Homo sapiens: one gene and its partner. Changing the gene in region 1 together with any one later gene gives a genetic interaction. Each region holds a gene or a part of one and is shown in the gene's direction. Other genes may lie near its edges.

Region 1 (3,500 bases):
GCATGAGACACTGCGCCCACGCCCGCCCCCCACCGCCCAGTCCTTTTTTGTTTTTGAGACTGAGTCTGGCTCTATCGCCCAGGCTGAAGTGCAGTGGCAAGATTTCGGCTCACTGCAAGCCTCCATGTCCTGGGTTCAAGCGATTCTCATGCCTCAGCCTCCGAAGTAGCTGGGATTACAGGGGTGCACCACCACGCTGGCTAATTTTTGTATTTTTAGTAGAGACAGGGTTTCACCATGTTGGCCAGGCTGGTCTGGAACTCCTTACCTCACGTGATCCGCCCACCTCAGCCTCCCAAAGTGTTGGGATTACAGGCTTGAGCCACCACGCCAAGCCCCCTTTTTTTTTTTTTTGGGGGTGGGGGACAGAGTCTCACTCTGTCATCAGGCTGGAGTATAGTGGCATGATCTCGGCTCACTGCAACCTCCGCCTCTCGGGTTCAAGTGATTCTCATTCCTCAGCCTCCCAAGTAGCTGGGATTATAGGCATGTGTCACCATGCCCAGATAATTTTTGTATTTTTTGTAGAGATGGGGTTTCACCATGTTGGTCAGGCTGGTCTTGAACTCCTGACCTCAAGTGATCCGCCCGACTTGGCATCCCAAAGTGCTGGGATTACGTGTGTGAGCCACCGCACCTGGCCTTTTTTTTTTTTTTTTCTTTTTTTAGAGACAGGGTCTCACTCTGTCACCCAGGCTGGACTTCAGTGGCACGATCTCTGCTTATCACAAACTCCAGCTCCTGGGCTCAAGTGATCCTCCCACCTCAGTCTCCTGAGTAGCTGAGACTACAGGCGTGAGCTACCATGCTTGGCTAATTTTTATATCTTTTCTTGGTAGAGATGAGGTCTCGCTATGTTGCCCAGGCTGGTCTTAAACTCCTGGGCTCAAGCAATCTTCCCGCCTTGGTCTCCCAAAGTACCAGGATTACAGGCGTGAGCCACCACACCTGGCTACAAGAAATATTTATCCAGGGCTCTGTATACCCTAGAAGTAGCCTTACTTTGAGGTGGCCATTAATATAATCCCATTTTACAGAGGAGGAAAACCAAGACATGGAGCATTTCAGAGATTTGCCCAAGTTACACACCTACGAAGTGGTCGGATCAAAATTCCAACTCATGCTGGTTTCTTCGGAGCTTCCACTTTTTTTTTTTTTGGAGATGGAGTCTCACTCTGTTGCTCAGGCTGGAGTACAGTGGCACAATCTCAGCTCACTGCAATCTCTGCCTCCTGGATTCAAGCGATTTTCCTGCCTCAGCCTCCTCAGTAACTGGGATTACAGGTGCCCACCACCACAGCTGGCTAATTTTTTTGTTTTTAGTAGAGACGGGGTTTCACCGTGTTGGCCAGGCTGGTCTCGGACTTCTGACCTCAGGTGATCCGCCTGCTTTGGCCTCCCAAAGTGCTGGGATTACAGGTGGGAACCACTGTGCTGGCCCAGAGCTGTCACTTGTTTTTTTCCACAACATTCTATTGTGATTGCTTATTTTTTCCTTTTTTAGTCTATTTGCCATTTTAGAAAATGATTTCATTTTAAAAAACAAGATGGGTGAGTTGGCTCGTGCGTATAATCTCAGTGCTTTGGGAGGCTGAGGCAGGAGAATCACATGAGCCCAGGAATTTGAGGTTACAGTGGCACCTCTGCACTCCACCATAGGTGACAGAGCAAGACCCTGTCTCTTAAAAAATAAACTCAGACATCCCATCTCTACTAAAAATACAAAAATTAGCCGGGTGTGGTTGTGCGTGCCTGTAGTCCCAGCTACTCAGGAGGCTGAGGCTGAGGCAGAAGAATCATTTGAACCCGGAGACAGAGGTTGCAGTGAGCCGAGATCACGCCACTGTATCCAGCCTGACGACAGAGTGAGACTCTGTCTCAAAAAAAAAAAAGAAACAAAAGAGGCCGGGCGCGTTGGCTCACGCCTGTAATCCCAGCACTTTGGGAGGCTGAGGCAGGCGGATCACGAGGTCAGGAGATCGAGACCATCCTAGCTAACATGGTGAAACCCCGTCTCTACTAAAAATACAAAAAATTAGCTGGATATGGTGGTGGGCACCTGTAGTCCCAGCTACTCGGAGGCTGAGGCAGGAGAATCGCATGAACCTGGATGGCAGAGCTTGCAGTGAGGCAAGATCGTGCCACTGCACTCCAGCCTGGGCGACAGAGCGAGACTCCATCTCAAAAAAAAAAAAAAAAGAAACAAACAGAAAACTCAGAGGCCAGGCGCGGTGGCTCAGGCCTGTAATCCCAGCACTTTGGGAGGCCGAGGCAGGCAGATCACCTGAGGTCAGGAGTTCAAGACCAGCCTGGTTAACACGGTGAAATCCCGTCTCTACTAAAAATACAAAAACAAAAATTAGCCGGGTGTGGTGGTGGGCGCCTGTAGTCCCAGCTACTCGGGAGGCTGAGGCAGGAGAATGGCGTGAACCCGGGAGGTGGAGCTTGCAGTGAGCCGAGATTGCACCCCTGCACTCCAGCCTGGGCGACAGAGCGAGACTCCATCTCAAAAAAAAAAAAAAAAAAAAAGCCAAGCCAGGTATGGTGATGCACACCTGTAATCCTCAGGAGGCTGAAGTAGGAGAATCATTTGAGCTCAAGAGTTTAAGACCAACGGCCGGACACGGTGGCTCATGCCTGTAATCCCAGCACTTTGGAAGGCAAGGGGGTGGGCCACTTGAGGTCAGGAGTTCCAGACCAACCTGGCCAACATGGTGAAACCCCGTCTCTACCATAAAAATATGAAAATTAGCTGTGCGTGGTGGCACACACCTGTAGTCCCAGCGACTCAGGAGGCTGAGGTGGGAAGATCGTTTGAGCCCAGGAGTTCAAGGCTACAGTGAGCTATGATTGTGCCACTGCACTACAGCCTAGGTGACAGAGCAAAACTGTGTCTCAAAAGCAAAAACAGGCCAGGTCCGGTGGCTCACGCCTGTAATCCTAGCACTTAGGGAGGCTGAGATGGGCAGATCACCTAAGGTCAAGAGTTCAAGACTGGCCAGGCGAGGTGGCTCACGCTTGTAATCCCAGCACTTTGGGAGGCCGAGGCGGGCGGATCACGAGGTCAGGAGATCAAGATCATCCTGGCTAACACAGTCACCCCGTCTCTACTAAAAATACAAAAAATATTAGCCAGGCACGGTGGTGGGCCCCTGTAGTCCCAGCTACTCGGGAGGCTGAGGCAGGAGAATGGCGTGAACCCGGGAGGTGGAGCTTGCAGTGAGCCGAGATAGCGCCACTGCAGTCCGGCCTGGGCAAAAGAGCGAGACTCCATCTCAAAAAAAAAAAAAAAAAAAAAAGAGTTTGAGACCAGCCTGGCCAACATGAAGAAATGCCATCTCTACTAAAAATACATAGTGAAACTCCGTCTCTACTAAAAATAAATACAAAAAAATGGCCGGGCGCGGTGGCTCACGCCTGTAATCCCAGCACTTTGGGAGGCTAAGGCGGGTGGATCACAAGGTCAGGAGATCGAGACCATCCTGGCTAACACGGTGAAA
Region 2 (4,161 bases), on another chromosome or scaffold:
GCTCTGGCTGGCTCTCCTGGTAGAAGCTCACCTCTCAGTCCAATTTTCTCCCAGCAGTGAGGAAAGATGGCAGCTGCTGCTTTTCAAAGCTCAGAGAGAGCAAGAAACCTTTTCCTTCCATCCTCCCCCTCGGAGATTCCCACCCCCATCCCACCTCAGGAGCCAAAAAGGTAGGCTCAGGTTCCCAGCAGTCTTCGCAGCTAAGGCTGAATCTGCCAAAAGCCCCCGCCCAGCTTATCCCCTGCTTCCGGGCTTTGCCTCCCTGTCCACAGAGGATGCTCTTCAGCCAGAGTGCTCCAGGGTTCCCCTGATCATTCTCTACCTGCAGCTAGGCTGACCATGCCTCTGTCCACATTATTTAATCCACCAGGCAATACTCAAAATGACATCGTTAACACTTCCTGAGCATTCGCAGGCTGCTGTATTTAGTTCTGATCCCCATTCTTCCTCCATGAGAGTGCTTAGGTGGGGCATGATCTCCAGCTTAGAAAGGTTAAGGTAACTTGCCCAAGGTCACACAGCAGGAAAGTAGCAAAAAACTTGTTTCTCTTGCCCAGCAGTTTGGCAGGTGCTCAAATAATCTTTGTGCACAGGGTGACATCTGTTGTTTCTTCATTTCCCTGACCTGTGGGTACTTGAGGGTGGCCGGGGAGTGGTGTGTGGGGAGGGAGATGGCTGTCCTTCTTCATGAATGAATCTTTGACCTCCTTAGTTTACTCTCACTTCCAAAGAAGTTACAGCTTTAATCTCTCTGTACCCTATGTTCAATGTATTTATCGCAGCAATGCCCCTTTTACCAAGAGCAACGAAGAGCAGGTCTAATGATTTCCTTCTCAAAAGCGCAAAGACCAAAAAAAAAAAAAAAAAGCCAGATAAATAGCCCCACTTCCTCCCCAAATATACAGCCCATAACTAAACAACCAAAACAACCAAAGCATCAGCCGGGCCCCTGCACTGACCGCAGACGCCCCCAACACACGCCACCACGCCACACTGCGCCGGGAGGCGTCGGGGAGGGGGCGCCAGCGCGGGCCGCTGGCGCCGCAGGGAGCCGGTGGGCTCCGGGCGCGCTGCCAGGAAGGGCCGCACCGTAGGGGCCGCCGCCTCTCGCCACGTGGTGGTGGCAGCGGCGGGGTCCGGGGCGCCTTCCCAGCTGGAGAAACCCGGAGCAGCCGGGGAGGAGGAGGCGGAGGAGGCGGCGGCGGCGGAGGAGGAGCGGGGCGGACGGGAGGGAGGGGGTTGGGGGGAGGGGTGGGGGGTGGGGAGAGACCCGGCGGCGGCGACAGGGCGAGGAGCAGAGCGCGGTACCAGGGGGGTGGGGGCACTGGTGCCCGTTTGGGGAGGGAGCAGGCGGAGGGGGTAAGCTGCGATTACAAGCAGGAACCGGCAGCAGCTGTGAGTCCCCGGCTGGGGCTAGGGCTGGGGGAGGGGAGCGGCGCCCGGGCTGGGCCCCAGGGGTCGCGGGGTGGGCAGGAGGAGGCGGCAGGAGGGCGGCTGGCAGCCGCACGGGATGGCTGGGAGGGAAGGGGTCCGGTGTCGGCCGCCCTCATCCCCTCGCGTCCCCCTCCGCCGCCGTTCCTCAGGCCGCGCCACTCCCGGAGCCCCTTCCCCGGCCCCGAGAGGGTGTCCGGGGGCCCAGGGCTCGGCCGGTTGTGGGGGAGGGGGCTGCGTGGTCTCGGCCCCCGAGAGGGGAGGGGCGACAATTTCTGTCGGCCGAGCGAAAGGGGTTTAAAGGGCGGCTCTTAAAGGGGCCGCAGGAGGGGCCCGGGCCGACAGAGGCACTCACCCCTTCCCCAGCCGCCTTCCATTGCGCTCACCCGGGCGCTGGGCCCAGAGAGGAATGCGGAGGAAGGAGGCATTTGTGGTGCGGCCTCGGGGACAGAGCCCCGCCAGCGGGGTGGGCGCAGAGGGGCGGGCGGGGGTCTGGGGGGGTGTGGTAAGCGCTGGCGCGCGGAGCTGGGGGGAGGGGATGGCGTGGGAAGGAGAGGGTTAAAGGTGGGGCCGGCCCTACAAACGCGCGCACACACTCCTTACTCAGACCCAGTCACTCGCGTTTCCCTGGCACTTAGATGGGCCTGTGGGTGGCGGAGGGGGGGGGGTGGATTGAATTGGAGCCTGCGCCGGAGCCCTTTGCACCCCAAGCTCCTGCAGCCCGACCTGGGGGCCCCGCTGTCTGAACTCACAGCTCCCTGCCGAGCCCCCTCTCCGGGGTGCACATAACGCTCCAGCGCGCGCACACACCTCGGACAGTCCCCTCGCGTCTCACGTGACACGCGGCCCGGACGTGCCACCCTGCCCACGCGCTCACGCACGCGTGCACACACCAGCCTCCTGGTCGCTGCCCCACTCCGTCCCGACGCCCCTGCGACCCCGAAGGCACTCATTGACTGACACACCTACACTCATTCACAGACGCACACTCCCCCCATACGCCAACCCCAGACACACATTCATAACCAGGCCCGAGAGAAGTACACACGCACCCCCTCACTGCCTACTCCTGCTTTCGGGAGCCTGAGTCATTCCTGCCCCCTCGTAGGGTTCCCCATTTCCCGGTGCGCGGGCACCCTGAGACAGCCTTGGGAATTCGTTCGCGTCCCCTTCCACCTGGGTCCCCTTCCCCAGTTTGCGCCCCGTAACACTCAGCCAAGGACTTCCTGTGGGTCCCAGGTCAGGGGCCAAGGGGTCCTGGACCGCTGCCACAGCCCCGGTGCGCCCGGGGGAGGCGCTTCCTTTTCCTGAACTCTGGGATCCTGCGGGAGGAAGTGGGGAAGTTGGGCGGGGGTGCAGCCGAGGGCGTGCCGACTGTGGAGGGGCCGACCCTCGCGCAGCTCTGGGCCTTCCTTGGGGAGGAGCTGGGGTGCCAGAGGCCCAGGCTGAGGAGCTTGGCGGCGAGGTATTTGGGGAAGTAAGGCCTGGGGTGGAGAAGCGCGGAGGAATGGGCCGGGCCCGGCTGGGAAGGCAGCCCTCTCCCATCCACAGGTCTCCCTGGGTTCTGGCAGGAGCCTGCCCCTGCTGCCGGCCTGGCTTACTTGTCCCTACTTGTCAACACCCTGGCAGCGGGGTCTTCACCTGGTTCCAGCCCCTTTTCCCCAAGGCGGCAGAGAGGATGGGGCTGAGGAGTCTGGGAAGGGGCCATGGGAGTCCCTGCTGAGCTCGGGGCAGGAAGTTTCTGGGTTGCATCTTAGCCGGCCCCAGGGAGTGCAGAGCCAGGGAGAGGGGTACCAGGGACAAACCCTAGACAGACGGCCCTGTCCACGGTTGCTCCTGCTCTCCTAGGAGGCCCCGTGTGGGCCGCGGCCCGGCCCTCACCATGGAGTCCATGTTCGAGGACGACATCAGCATCCTGACGCAGGAGGCCCTGGGGCCTAGTGAGGTGTGGCTGGACAGTCCCGGAGACCCCTCGCTTGGGGGCGACATGTGCTCCGCCTCCCACTTTGCCCTCATCACTGCTTACGGAGACATCAAGGAACGGCTGGGGGGCCTGGAGAGGGAGAACGCCACCCTCCGACGCCGCCTCAAAGTCTACGAGATCAAGGTCAGAACTTGGAGAGGAGGGCGCCTGATAGAGTGTATGGGATGGGGAGGGGGACTGGGAATCTGGTAGATACCAGGGATCCAAAAGAGGGGTCACTGTGCAGACTCTTGGGAACTTGAGGGTCTCCCATGAGAGACGTGGCTGTTCCGGATGCGAACTGTCTCCTGTTGGCTTCAGAAGGGCTGGATCTGGGATCTAAAACAGATCCGGTGGGTGGGAGATGGCTACAGACCCATGGGAATTGGGATCCCACTAGCCAAGGAGAAGGAGGGTCAAAGGTCTGAGGCAGGTTGTGGGTTGGGGGCACAGCCAGGCTGAGGCCTGGGCTGGGCACCCGGGAATCCACTCTCCTGAAGCTCCACCCCACCTGCAGTACCCACTGATCAGTGACTTTGGAGAGGAGCATGGCTTTTCTCTGTATGAAATCAAGGATGGCTCCCTGCTGGAGGTGGAGAAGGTCAGCCTGCAGCAACGGCTCAACCAGTTCCAGCATGAGGTGAGCCTACCAGGCTGGGCGCACCCCCTGAGCATCTTGCTCCAGTCTGTTTCTGATACCCTTCCCTCCACACCCCCCAGCATCTGGCCTCTGCCCTTTGATTAGAGATGGCCAGGTCCTCCCTAAG

Evidence for each region. A genetic interaction does not mean that the proteins touch.
Region 2: changes in KEAP1 (region 1) and TBKBP1 together harm fitness more than expected from each alone (negative genetic interaction), as found in Homo sapiens cells (one large-scale study listed by BioGRID).

What each region holds. Positions count from the first base shown.
Region 1 is NC_000019.10:10,493,357-10,496,856, reverse strand, and holds part of KEAP1 (kelch-like ECH-associated protein 1), read left to right. Parts: intron 1-3,500. UniProt on the Homo sapiens protein: Substrate-specific adapter of a BCR (BTB-CUL3-RBX1) E3 ubiquitin ligase complex that regulates the response to oxidative stress by targeting NFE2L2/NRF2 for ubiquitination.
Region 2 is NC_000017.11:47,692,800-47,696,960, forward strand, and holds the start of TBKBP1 (TANK-binding kinase 1-binding protein 1), read left to right. Parts: upstream 1-1,361; 5' UTR 1,362-1,395; exon of another isoform or gene 1,396-1,864; intron 1,865-1,950; exon of another isoform or gene 1,951-3,279; 5' UTR 3,280-3,313; coding exon 3,314-3,538; intron 3,539-3,911; coding exon 3,912-4,034; intron 4,035-4,161.